3 separate regions of the Homo sapiens genome follow, and all the other regions are reported to be linked to region 1. Evidence: microRNA targets listed by miRTarBase, many of them from high-throughput screens and not tested one by one. Region 1 holds a microRNA gene; each other region holds the end of a gene's coding sequence.
Evidence for each region. Region 1 holds the annotated microRNA hsa-miR-3913-5p (UUUGGGACUGAUCUUGAUGUCU, at 1,383-1,404, shown strand). A microRNA usually pairs through its seed, bases 2 to 8, with sites in the 3' UTR of a target mRNA and lowers its output. Matches are read on the target gene's strand: a 7mer-m8 pairs with bases 2 to 8, a 7mer-A1 pairs with bases 2 to 7 and ends in A, and an 8mer does both.

Region 2: the mRNA of CLCN6 is a reported target of hsa-miR-3913-5p. Seed matches in the 3' UTR shown: 7mer-m8 at 1,867-1,873.
Region 3: miRTarBase lists MATN3 as a target of hsa-miR-3913-5p. Seed matches in the 3' UTR shown: 7mer-A1 at 3,030-3,036 and 7mer-A1 at 2,905-2,911.

The regions. Positions count from the first base shown.
Region 1 is chr12:69,583,362-69,587,428 of GRCh38, forward strand. It overlaps MIR3913-2 (microRNA 3913-2), which reads left to right and starts at 1,362; the gene lies at 1,362-1,461. It overlaps CCT2 (chaperonin containing TCP1 subunit 2), which reads left to right and starts at 2,098. Exons shown (of 16, transcript NM_006431.3): 1 at 2,098-2,163; 2 at 2,909-2,983; 3 at 3,392-3,457. The coding sequence starts at 2,161. MIR3913-1 (microRNA 3913-1) reads right to left here and starts at 1,462; the gene lies at 1,361-1,462. RefSeq lists an enhancer at 2,129-2,468.
Region 2 is chr1:11,839,427-11,843,493 of GRCh38, forward strand. It overlaps CLCN6 (chloride voltage-gated channel 6), which reads left to right. Exons shown (of 23, transcript NM_001286.5): 23 at 717-3,704. The coding sequence ends at 797. It also overlaps NPPA-AS1. Among named protein-coding and RNA genes, the nearest start is that of NPPA, 6.3 kb to the right of the region's middle.
Region 3 is chr2:19,989,390-19,993,456 of GRCh38, forward strand. MATN3 (matrilin 3) reads right to left here. Exons shown (of 8, transcript NM_002381.5): 8 at 2,663-3,777. The coding sequence ends at 3,722. It overlaps WDR35 (WD repeat domain 35), which reads right to left and starts at 716. Exons shown (of 27, transcript NM_020779.4): 1 at 603-716. The coding sequence starts at 626. WDR35-DT (WDR35 divergent transcript) reads left to right here and starts at 815. Exons shown (of 3, transcript NR_110235.1): 1 at 815-1,105. RefSeq lists enhancers at 447-496, 513-1,016, 647-696 and a silencer at 857-936.

The DNA of each region.
Region 1 (4,067 bases):
GGCTGCCTCTAGCCTCAGTTCCACAAGGTGGCAGGGCCTGCCTCCTTCTCCCCATCCAAATGCCTCTGGCTACATTCAAAGCCCAGCAGGGAGCAGTCATTGGTTTCCCCATCACACACAGTCTCAGGCTTGCCTACCAGAGGACATAATAAATATCTCCAGGTATGTAATTTTGCCCACAATAAAAACAACCTTTTTCAATATTGTGCAGGCATCTTAGTTTTTTATTGTGAATCTTCTCATTCCAGAATGCGATTTGGGATCTGCCTAGGAAAGTACATTTCCTGAAAGAAGACCAAATTTTCCTACAAAGAAGAGAAAACTCTTGGGAGATTTAAAATAACAATTTGTCCAGCCTGAACTCCCCTTTTCATGTTGGACCTGAGGAATACTGTAAACCAGGGTCAGCAAACTTTTTCTGTAAAGAATTAGATAATACATGTTTTAGGTTTTGTGGGCCCATTCAACCTGTCATGACTACTCAACTCTGCCACATAACTCTGCTATCGTATTGTGACAGAGTAAATATGTATGGGTATGCCCATGGATTCCAATGAAGCTTTATGGACACTGAAATATTAATTTCACAGGATTTTCATGTGTCAGGAAATTTTTGATTTCTTTCAACCACTTAAAAATGTAAAAACTATTCTTAGCTCTCAGGCCATACAAAAAACAACTGGCAGGCTGGGTTTGACTCCTCACAGCTTGCCAACCCCTGGTGGAAATCAACCCACTTAGAGGAAATCTGAAGGGTAGAAACAACTAAAAAATTGAAAATTCCTGTTAATGTTAGCAATGTCAAAAATCCAGGAGACCCCAGCTACTCAGGAGACCAAGGCAGGAAGATTGCTTGAGCCCAGGAGTTCCAGGCCAGCCTGGGCAACATAGAAGACCCCATCTCTAAAAAAAACAAAACAGAAAAAGAAAAATCCAGGAGCTTGTTTTGTTTTGTTTTTGTTTTGAGACAGAGTCTCGCTCTGTTGCCCAGGCTGGAGTGCAGCGGCGTGATCTCGGCTCACTGAAACCTCTGCCTCCCGGGTTCAAGCAATTATCCTGCCTCAGCCTCCTGAGTAGCTGGGATTACGGGCATGCACACCACGCCCGGCTAATTTTTGTATTTTCAGTAGAGACAGGGTTTCACCATGTTGGCCAGGCTGGTCTCCAACTCCTGACCTCAGGTGATCCGCCCACCTCGGCCTCCCAAAGTGCTGGGATTACAGGGGTGAGCCACCGCGCCCTGCCGAGGAGCTTAAGCGATCAGTTAGTCAAAGGGAGAAAAGAGGGTATCAGTAGATGACAGAAAAATTTTTTAGAGAACAAATTTTTAGACATCCGTCAACTTAGAGAAAGTAGAAAACTGTCTATAATAAACTGAAATATTTGGGACTGATCTTGATGTCTGCCAAGGTTTTGGCAGACATCAAGATCAGTCCCAAATATTTCAGTTTATTATAAACAAAGACTAATAAGTCGTCTCTACTATTGGAGGAAAAAAAAAAAAAAGACCGAAATGCAAAAATTCCTGAAAATGAGTAAATAGGGCAAAGATAAAATACTATAAATGTCTCTCTCAGTTCACAAGACCTTATCCTGGGCAGTCAACGTCCAGTTAGAAATAACGTCTGAAAATTCAGTAAGAGAAAAGGAAGTCTTCTTCTGTAATACTCAGTAAATAATGTTTAAAATTAACATAGCAATAATATTATCTGGGAATATGATAGTAAATAGCCCCTCCAAAAAACTGAAAAAGTTGAAAGCAGTTTTCCTGGAGACAGGAAGTGGTGAGGCAGATAAATTATGTTTTTCCTTATTGGTATATAACACTTTAAACTGTGTACATGTGTGACTTTAATAGAAGTGTTTAAAGATTAAATTTAAGAAAATAAAAAGTGTGAGCAAGAACTCCATTTCTATGGCAACCCGCGCGGCAGCCGCCTCTTTGTTCTGGAGCGGCGGCCACGCCCCCTCCAGTGTGAAAGGCTGCGTTTCCGGCCCGTGGGGCTCCAATCAAAATGGGACGCCTGCTGGCGGTAACGACAGGCCGGGGCCCCGCCCCCCGAAGTAGGGCGTGTGGCGTCACTTCCGGCTTCCTTCAGTCCGCTGGTCCCGAGCACGAGCTGTGAGGGGATTCACTTGTGTGCGGAACTCCTCGGAACCATGGTGAGCCTGACTCCCCTGCCTCTTGCCCTACCCCTGCTCCGCCGTGCTCTTGCCACCCCACTGCTTCCTCTGTCCTGCTAGGGTCGTAGGCTCCGTTTCTGTCTCCCCGGCCCTCCGCACATGGTGCGAGCCATGCGCGGGGCGTGCGGCCTGCGCCAGGCCAGCCGGTGGAGCTCACCACGAGGGGGAGGGGTGGACCGCAAAGCCAGCGTCTCCTTGTGCCTAGGTCTTTGCATAGTCCCGGCAGCCCAGGTCCGCGCCTCACCCGGAGCGAAGAAATTTCTAGTGTGGGACCCGCTCCGCCCTCCTTCTAGGGGCGGAGCCTGGAGCGACGGGGTCTGAGCCATCAGAGGGTGGAGGGGCCGCAGCCTTCCGAGGGTGGAAGATGGAGGCCGCGTTCCCTCGCCCGCCCGGCAGGCGTCACCTTGATGGCCTGCAACCCCTCCCTGCCTCATTCTTAGTTCAAGATCGTCTTTAGTCTCGCTGTACGTAACTGTCAATCTCGCTGGTGTATAATTTATACTCCCGGGGGCCTTGTAAATCCGAAAAGCCATGTCGCTCTCCTACAAGTCCCTCTCTCCCACTTAAATGCTTTCTCCGATGATGGAAGCTTCATTTGATTGAAAACATTGTTGTAAATGAGTTTTCTCTTAGATGTCCACTTGTAAGACTAGTGGAAGGCACCTCAGTGTATGTGTTAGAGTATTGGTACTTAAACGGAATGCCTCTTGGTTTTCCTTTTCAGGCGTCCCTTTCCCTTGCACCTGTTAACATCTTTAAGGCAGGAGCTGATGAAGAGAGAGCAGAGACAGCTCGTCTGGTAAGCCTTGTTCTAAGCATTGTTTTAAAGATAAAACTGGAGGCCAGGCGCGGTGGCTTACTCCTGTAATCCCAGTACTTTGGGAGGCCGAGGTAGGCGGATGAACTGAGGTCAGGAGTTCGAGACCAGCCTGGCCAACATGGTAAAACCCCGTTTCTACTAGAAATACAAAAATTAGCCGGGCGTGGTGATGGGCACCTGTAATCCCAGCTACTCGGGAGGCTGAGGCAGGAGGATCGCTTGAACCCAGGAGGCGGAGGTTGCAGTGAGCTGAGATCGCGCCATTGCACTCCAGCCTGGGCGACAGAGCGACACTCTGCCTCAAAAAAAAAAAAAAGTAAATAAAGATAAAACTGTACTTGAAGACTGTAAAGTTGATTCTGATAATCTCCTTGGTTTTTACTCCAGACTTCTTTTATTGGTGCCATCGCCATTGGAGACTTGGTAAAGAGCACCTTGGGACCCAAAGGCATGGTAAGAAAAATAGAAAAGTTTTATATTTTAATATTGTTTTAGAGCGCTTGGTGGAAATATAATAACAAGCGTATTAAAATGCTTTTTAATCTTTAAAACGTTTAATTATAAAAGACAAGTATGTTCTCCTTAGTAAAAATCAGAGTCCCCAGAATCACCATCCCCAATCCCATGCCCCTCCCCAATGACAAGTACTGTTATCATTTGCACGTACATCTTCTAATATTCTGTTTATGTAGAAGTATGTGTACTTCATTATGTATTTTATACTCATGTAACATACTGTTTTATAAAACAGATACTATTTATCAATACTTTTTTGTAGCTTGCTCTTTTAAATTCCTTTCAGTGTAAGTAGATAACACTGCCCCTTTAACTGTCAAATATTATCCTGTACCTTAATTATTTTATAATTTAATTATGGCTGTATTGATAGTTTCTTTCCATTGTTTTTGCAGTTACGGTGTTGAAACAAAAACTAGTGTCTACCTGTGCTTCTAGTGTTTCTAGGGGTAGATACATGGTTTGGTTACGTGGTGTATGTATTGAAAACATTTGATGAATGGATACCACAAAATAGCTATCCAGAGTGTTTATACACTAGCACTGT
Region 2 (4,067 bases), not on the chromosome of region 1:
AGTTTTTGTATTTATGGTAGAGACACGGTTTCGCCATGTTGCCCAGGCTGGTCTTGAACTCCTGAACTCAAGTGATTCACCTGCCTCGGCCTCCCAAAGTGCTGGGATTACATGCGTCAGCCACTGCACCCGGCCTCAGTCTTTTCTTCTATGCGGCACAACCCTGGCATGCATAGTGCGTACTTACACAGGTTTTGTTGCAGTAGGTTAACTTATGTCCCTTGAAATGTAATTGCCAACTACACTGACAGAGTCCTAACATAGTTTATGACGTGGCTTTGGAGTTCCCAACAACAGTGACACGTGGGAACCACTGTAACGACCTGTAACAAATGACTCCCATAGGTCACTTTGCAAGGTGGTGAGTATGAGGCATGGCAGGGGTCATAATCTCAGGAGACTTCAAGGGCCCCACCGCTTGCACATCTGTGAAGCAGGCTGGTCATGATGGGAGCTGAGCGCTGAGCATGTGCCCTGTGGAAGGACATTTTAGTTCAGATGCCAGCTGGCCCAAGCCCTTTTTGGAGCTAACCTTGTCCCCTTGGCCTCCAGTGTGTGAGCCCTCGTTAGCTGTTTATCCCAATCAAGCTGTGTCTGGCTGTGCACTATCCAGGCCTCCACATTCTGTGACAAACTAACAGGGCCGGCTCCTGTCACTCCTGTTCTCGCCAGCGGGTTTTACCCTGAAGGTGACTCAGGCCTTCTCTTTGCCCTAGATCGTGGGGATCATCACACGGCACAACCTCACCTATGAATTTCTGCAGGCCCGGCTGAGGCAGCACTACCAGACCATCTGACAGCCCAGCCCACCCTCTCCTGGTGCTGCCTGGGGAGGCAAATCATGCTCACTCCGGCGGGCACAGCTGGCTGGGGCTGTTCCGGGGCATGGAAGATTCCCAGTCACCCACTCACTCAGAAAGCCGGGAGTCATCGGACACCTTGCTGGTCAGAGGTCCTGGGGGTGGTTTTGAACCATCAGAGCTTGGACTTTTCTGACTTCCCCAGCAAGGATCTTCCCACTTCCTGCTCCCTGTGTTCCCACCCTCCAGTGTTGGCACAGGCCCACCCCTGGCTCCACCAGAGCCAGAAGCAGAGGTAGAATCAGGCGGGCCCCGGGCTGCACTCCGAGCAGTGTTCCTGGCCATCTTTGCTACTTTCCTAGAGAACCCGGCTGTTGCCTTAAATGTGTGAGAGGGACTTGGCCAAGGCAAAAGCTGGGGAGATGCCAGTGACAACATACAGTTCATGACTAGGTTTAGGAATTGGGCACTGAGAAAATTCTCAATATTTCAGAGAGTCCTTCCCTTATTTGGGACTCTTAACACGGTATCCTCGCTAGTTGGTTTTAAGGGAAACACTCTGCTCCTGGGTGTGAGCAGAGGCTCTGGTCTTGCCCTGTGGTTTGACTCTCCTTAGAACCACCGCCCACCAGAAACATAAAGGATTAAAATCACACTAATAACCCCTGGATGGTCAATCTGATAATAGGATCAGATTTACGTCTACCCTAATTCTTAACATTGCAGCTTTCTCTCCATCTGCAGATTATTCCCAGTCTCCCAGTAACACGTTTCTACCCAGATCCTTTTTCATTTCCTTAAGTTTTGATCTCCGTCTTCCTGATGAAGCAGGCAGAGCTCAGAGGATCTTGGCATCACCCACCAAAGTTAGCTGAAAGCAGGGCACTCCTGGATAAAGCAGCTTCACTCAACTCTGGGGAATGCTACCATTTTTTTTCCAAAGTAGAAAGGAAGCACTTCTGAGCCAGTGACCACTGAAAGGTATGTGCTATGATAAAGCAGATGGCCTATTTGAGGAAGAGGGTGTCTGCCCTTCACAAACACCTCTCTCTCCCCTGCACTAGCTGTCCCAAGCTTACATACAGAGGCCCTTCAGGAGGGCCTCCTGTGCCGCAGGGAGGGTGCGTGGGGAAGATGCTTCCTGCCAGCACGTGCCTGAAGGTTTCACATGAAGCATGGGAAGCGCACCCTGTCGTTCAGTGACGTCATTCTTCTCCAGGCTGGCCCGCCCCCTCTGACTAGGCACCCAAAGTGAGCATCTGGGCATTGGGCATTCATGCTTATCTTCCCCCACCTTCTACATGGTATTAGTCCCAGCAGGCATCCCTGGGGCAGACGTGCTTTGGCTCAAGATGGCCTTCATTTACGTTTAGTTTTTTTTAAAACCGTGGAGGTTGCCCACGGGCCTCGGCACCTGGCCCTGGCAGCACAGCTCTCAGGCCCAGCCCTGGGCGACCTCCTTGGCCAAGTCTGCCTTTCACCCTGGGGTGAGCATCAGTCCTGGCTCTGCTGGTCCAGATCTTGCGCTCAGCACACTCTAGGGAATAATTCCACTCCAGAGATGGGGCTGCTTCAAGGTCTTTTCTAGCTGATTGTGGCCCCTCCATTTTCCCCATTTTCTTATCTCCCTGACCAAAATTGCTTTGACTTCTAAATGTTTCTGCTTCCCAGAATGCACCTGACTTATGAAATGGGGATAATACTCCCAGGAAATAGCGCAGGACATCACAAGGACCAAAAAGGCAATTCTTATTTAAATGTTACTATTTGGCCAGCTGCTGCTGTGTTTTATGGCAGTGTTCAGAGCTTGATCACGTTATTTCTTCCTTTTATTAAGAAGGAAGCCAATTGTCCAAGTCAGGAGAATGGTGTGATCACCTGTCACAGACACTTTGTCCCCTCTCCCCGCCCCTTCCTGGAGCTGGCAGAGCTAACGCCCTGCAGGAGGACCCCGGCCTCTCGAGGGCTGGATCAGCAGCCGCCTGCCCTGAGGCTGCCCCGGTGAATGTTATTGGAATTCATCCCTCGTGCACATCCTGTTGTGTTTAAGTCACCAGATATTTTGTTCCCATCAGTTTAGCCCAGAGATAGACAGTAGAATGCAAATACCTCCCTCCCCTAAACTGACTGGACGGCTGCCAAGGAGGCCCCAAACCCAGGCCCCATGCAAAGGCACGTGGTTTCCTTTTCTCCTCTCTCTGCATCTGCGCTTTCCAGATAAGCCCAAAGACAGCAACTTCTCCACTCATGACAAATCAACTGTGACCCTCGCTCCTTCCATTTCTGTCCATTAGAAACCAGCCTTTTCAGCATCTCACCCATTAGCAGCCCCATCACCCAGTGATCAGTCGCCTCAGTAAAGCAGATCTGTGGATGGGGAGCCTACGGGTGGTAAGAAGTGGTGTTTTGTGTTTCATCTCCAGCTTGGTGTTCCATGGCCCCTAGGCGAGGTGATCAGGGAGTGGGGCCAATGGGCCCCCGGCCCTGGCTTTGGGACCTTGTGCTGAGGGATGATTTGCTCCTGACCTTGATTAACTTAACAGTTCCCAGCTGGAAGGGACACTTTCAGGACCCAGTCCACTGTATGGCATTTGTGATGCAGAATTATGCACTGACATGACCCTGGGTGACAGGAAAGCCTTTCGAGAGGCCCAAGGTGGCCTCGCCAGCCCTGCAGTATTGATGTGCAGTATTGCACCACAGCTCTGCGGACCTTGGCCATTGCCGCAGTCGCAGCTTCCTTTTTTCTGTTTGCACTGTTTGTTTGTATGATGTTAGCTAATTCCACTGTGTATATAAATTGTATTTTTTTTAATTTGTAAAATGCTATTTTTATTTGAACCTTTGGAACTTGGGAGTTCTCATTGTAACCCTAACATGTGAGAATAAAATGTCTTCTGTCTCCTCTGTCTCCTTTAGCCTTTTGTCTCCATGCTGCTTTCTTTCTTTCTTTCTTTTTTTGAGACAGAGTCTCGCTGTCACCCAGGCTGGAGTGCAGTGGTGCCATCTCAGCTCACTGCAAGCTCCGCCTCCCAGGTTCACGCCATTCTCCTGCCTCAGCCTCCCGAGTGGCTGGGACTACAGGCGCCCACCACCATGCCTGGCTAATTTTTTGTATTTTTGGTAGAGATGGGGTTTCACCATGTTAGCCAGGATGGTCTCAATCTCCTGACCTGGTGATCCTACCCGCCTCGGCCTCCCAAAGTGCTGGGATTACAGGCGTGAGCCACCACGCCCGGCCCTGCTGCTCTTTCTTTCAAGGGATAC
Region 3 (4,067 bases), not on the chromosome of region 1:
GCCTTGCAGAAAAAAAATGAGCTGTTGTGAAAATGGGCATGGTCCCCTGAACTGACCCGGGCTCTAGCATTTGGGAAAGAGGGAAAGAAGTGCACAAAAGAGAAGGATAGTGACTGCGGAGGAAGCCAACGCCAGAGTCTCACCGGATGGATTTTTTAAAGGGAGGACGGGGAGAGGGTATAAATCCATACCACCAGTCCCTCTTCCTTTTTACCTACAACTTAGGCTATCCTATTGTTATTTCTTTTCTCTTGCCCAATGGCTCGTGGTGATCCAAAGAGTTTAAATCACGTGGATCAGCAACAAGTGGAGGAGGAAACATAGGGTAGCACGTGGCGACTTATCCTCAAGCCACCCAAAAGGACCTAGCCAGGGGCAGGAATGGGAGAGTGCTGCGAGAGGGCAGCAAGCTCGGCCAAAGACTGAGGCTCTGGGAACCGCAGGAAGAGGTCGGAGGCTGGACCCGGCGGGAAGGATGGCTGCGGAATGGCGAAGCCACGACCAGGACCGGGTGAAGGAGCCTGGCTTCTCGGGAAGGCAGCGGGAATCGCCGCAGGCTGCGGGAATGGCGGAGAAACGAGGACGCCCCCCAGGAAACTCACTTTCTTGCTCAGGTAGAAGAACATCGTGGGATCCCCGAGAGGGTCACGGCGGCCGCTAAGGCCCTCGACAAGTAACGGTTCTACGTCTCCAATCGGGAGTACCAGCAGCTCCGGAAAGCTCCCGTCGCCCTGGCAACCGCTGTTGCCCGGTCGCATCCGGGGCGCCGCGGGACACTTCCGGTGACGCCCTCGCACCGGGCACCGGCGTAGTGCGCCTGCGCGGACGTCGATGGGTTTGTGGGCGCAGGGCGCGAGGCGCGAGGCGGTAGCTGGGCTAGTCCTGTTCCCTGGCGTCTGGGCCTTTCTGCTCTCCGCAAGGAGCTGGGTCGCGACCTGTCACTGCCAGCCGTGCGCTCGCCCTCTGCGCCCCGTCTCGTGGTCACTGCCGCCCTCCCTCCCGCCACACCTGTGATGATCGCTATGGAGCCGCGCCTCAGGTGGCATTACTATAAACCTAAGAGGAGAGGCGCCCGTTCGAATAAGGGCAAATTATTTAGTATTTTGTAAGTTCCAAAGTTCCAACATTCTTGAAAGGGAAAAGCCATTTACTGTATTTGATAGGCTGGCGCCACTGGCCAGATGAAAGTGCAAATGTGCGTACTGAGATCTTACAACCCTTCTCTGTGTCTTTGGGGATTGGAGAACCTCTAGAGCAATTTAGGAATAGAAGATTTTGTTTATTCCGCTTGTTTTGATATTTTTTAACAGTTTAATTATTACCGCAACCCCGAGGGTCCTTTTAAAGGAATTTCTGTAAACGTTGGGTAATTACAGCGTACAATTGCTATTGGGGCATGGCCTCCCATTTTACAAATATTTGAGCGTTTGGTGTTTTCTCGTCTAGAGTCGACTGTTACATATTCTCTTCTTTTTCTTACCTTCTTTCTTCATTCTCCTTTGTCCTTTTGGAATGCTTGAGAGTTACAAAGCCTCAAAGTCTAAGGCATAGGGCAGAAATCCAAGTAGAACCACTCATGAAATTATTTGGTCTCACCTATGTTTTTATTTCTGGTTTTCCCTTTTACCATAATCTAGCATGTAATTTATGCATCAGTAGTTAATTTCCCCACTTGGAGTCTTTTCCCATCTCAGACAAAAATAAAATAAAAATCCTCCAATCCTTTGACCTGGGTGATTTGTCTCACCCAGCACAATCTATTATAGAATTGACAATAGTCCCTAGTGCCTTTCCTAGCAAATCTAAACTCCATCCAAAATCAGATCTTCCCTCAATCCTAAATGTTTTTACTAGGGAGCCCCCACCTCAAGTAAGCCAATATGCTTTCTGCAGGGCAACATTCCATCCGGCTCTGCTTCCCAAGCCACTTTATATATGGTCCTACCCTCTTAACAGGCCAGTTGTGCCTAGCCAAACCAGCACAAATCAGTCTCCATGAGGAATTCTTTCCAAACTTAACCCAATCCCATTCAGATAATGTTTGCTTTCCATTGTTTGTGTGTCTGTTTAAGATACATTGGCCCCTGTCCATAGGCTCCCTATACTGGACGCATGAGACAAATTAGTATTATCTAACCCAGGAGTTTCCAATAAACTGGTCAAGACATAATTAGTTGAAGCTAGTTACTGATGGTGACACCTGAAAACTCACCTCTCTTTATCTTTCCCTTCTTGCACATGAACTCTCATTTATTCCTTCTATACCACCATTTCTCTGTGGTATATTAATATGTATTACTGATTTTGGGCTCAAAAAAGTCTGGAAAATACTACTGTAGCTCTATGTCATACCCTTTCAAAATTTTTGAAAAGTAAGAGATGCTTTATATATTTCCTTGGTATATTTAGTTTTTGTTCCTTCCTTAAAGTTTATATTTTATATTTACATCTGTAGGATATATTTGCTTCTCAGGAGCTTATATTAATGTAAAGCTCATCATTATTTTATCCAAATTTAGATAATTTTATATTGAAGCCTTTCTTTTGAACCTGAACTTACACTTTTAGCCTCAGGAGTGTGAGATTAAACTATAGGAGGAGAATCAAACTTCTGTCTTTTGATAAGAAACTGTTGAATATCAAAATAACTGTTAATTCAGTATAATTTAAAGAAATATCTTTAATAGACAAAATTGATGAGTCATCAAAAATAGACATGATAATATGTAAAGGTAATAACTTTTATTATATTAAAGACAATGCAAACGAAAAACAGAATTGAGCAGTGCAAAATTTAAAGGACTGTTTTGTTCTCAAAGTTGCAAGTTTCAAAGCCAAAAGAATTATATGTATCAAATATATAAGTAAAAAAAAGTTAGACTTTCAAGCCTGTAATCCCAGCACTTTGGGAGGCTGAGGCAGGTGGATCACTAACATTAAAAAGACAACATTAGATTTTGTCGATTTATAGCAATTTTATAAATATATAACTTTGTCACTTGGATCCTGAAGCAAAATAATAAAGTGAATTTGGGATTTTTGTACTTGGTAAAAAGTTTAACACCCTAAATTCACAACTAGTGCTCTTTAGTAGTACATTTCTTTCAAAGACCAGAATGAATTAAAAATGGCAATGTAATGTTCACTTGATCTGTGTTAACTATTTTTAGATATGTGTATTACAATCTATTGATCACATCTTCAATAATACTCCAACAAAATAAGCAAAAAACAAAAAGTGTTAAACAGTTCAAAATTACATTCATCTCAGTTATATGAAGTTGTATGTGTAAATACCTTGTACAATTTGCACTCTCAGTAATAAGATTGATTTATATTATAAATACTATCAAAAGAAACTAGACCTAAAGTTTCCATTGTGAATATGGTTATCTAATATAAACATTTAAAAATTAAATGGCTCAATTAGTAGATAAAGAAACACTAAACTTTTCATTCTATTTCCTACCAATCATTTCACAGTCATAACTTAGAGACACTAAAGTTTGCTCTTAATAAGTATCTGCATATGTATTTCCTTGGAAGAATCATGCTGATTCTGCAGAAGATCTTCATACAATTTATCCAGTAATATTCAAGCATTAATACAGATAATGGCAAATTATTAGCAGGAACATTGGCAATAACAGGTGTGCAAAAGAATGCATGAGTATTAAGTACACCAAGCTGTCCACATTTTCAGGTGAGAAATTGGAGCAATTTAACGATGTATTTGTCCATATTCATTTATTTTCAACTTCTCCAAAATGTCATCAAGTGGCAAGTTGTTAAGGCCAACACCATTTATTTTTACACATTAGAAAATATAAACACACTTTCAAACACTTCACAAGATAAAATAATTATGTCCTATGAGAAGTGAAAAAAAAGAGCAAAACTGTTTTCTCACCAAAAGTTGAATTCAGTCTAAAAGTCAAAAATCCTGTTCTTCAGAGAGCACAATAAAAGTAGACCCCTGCAGTGGTCTTCAGATGTTTTTGTTCATATAAAATGTAATTGGAGTAGCATCTTAGTGTGAGGGATGGGGGAAGCAGTGTTTATGAAGT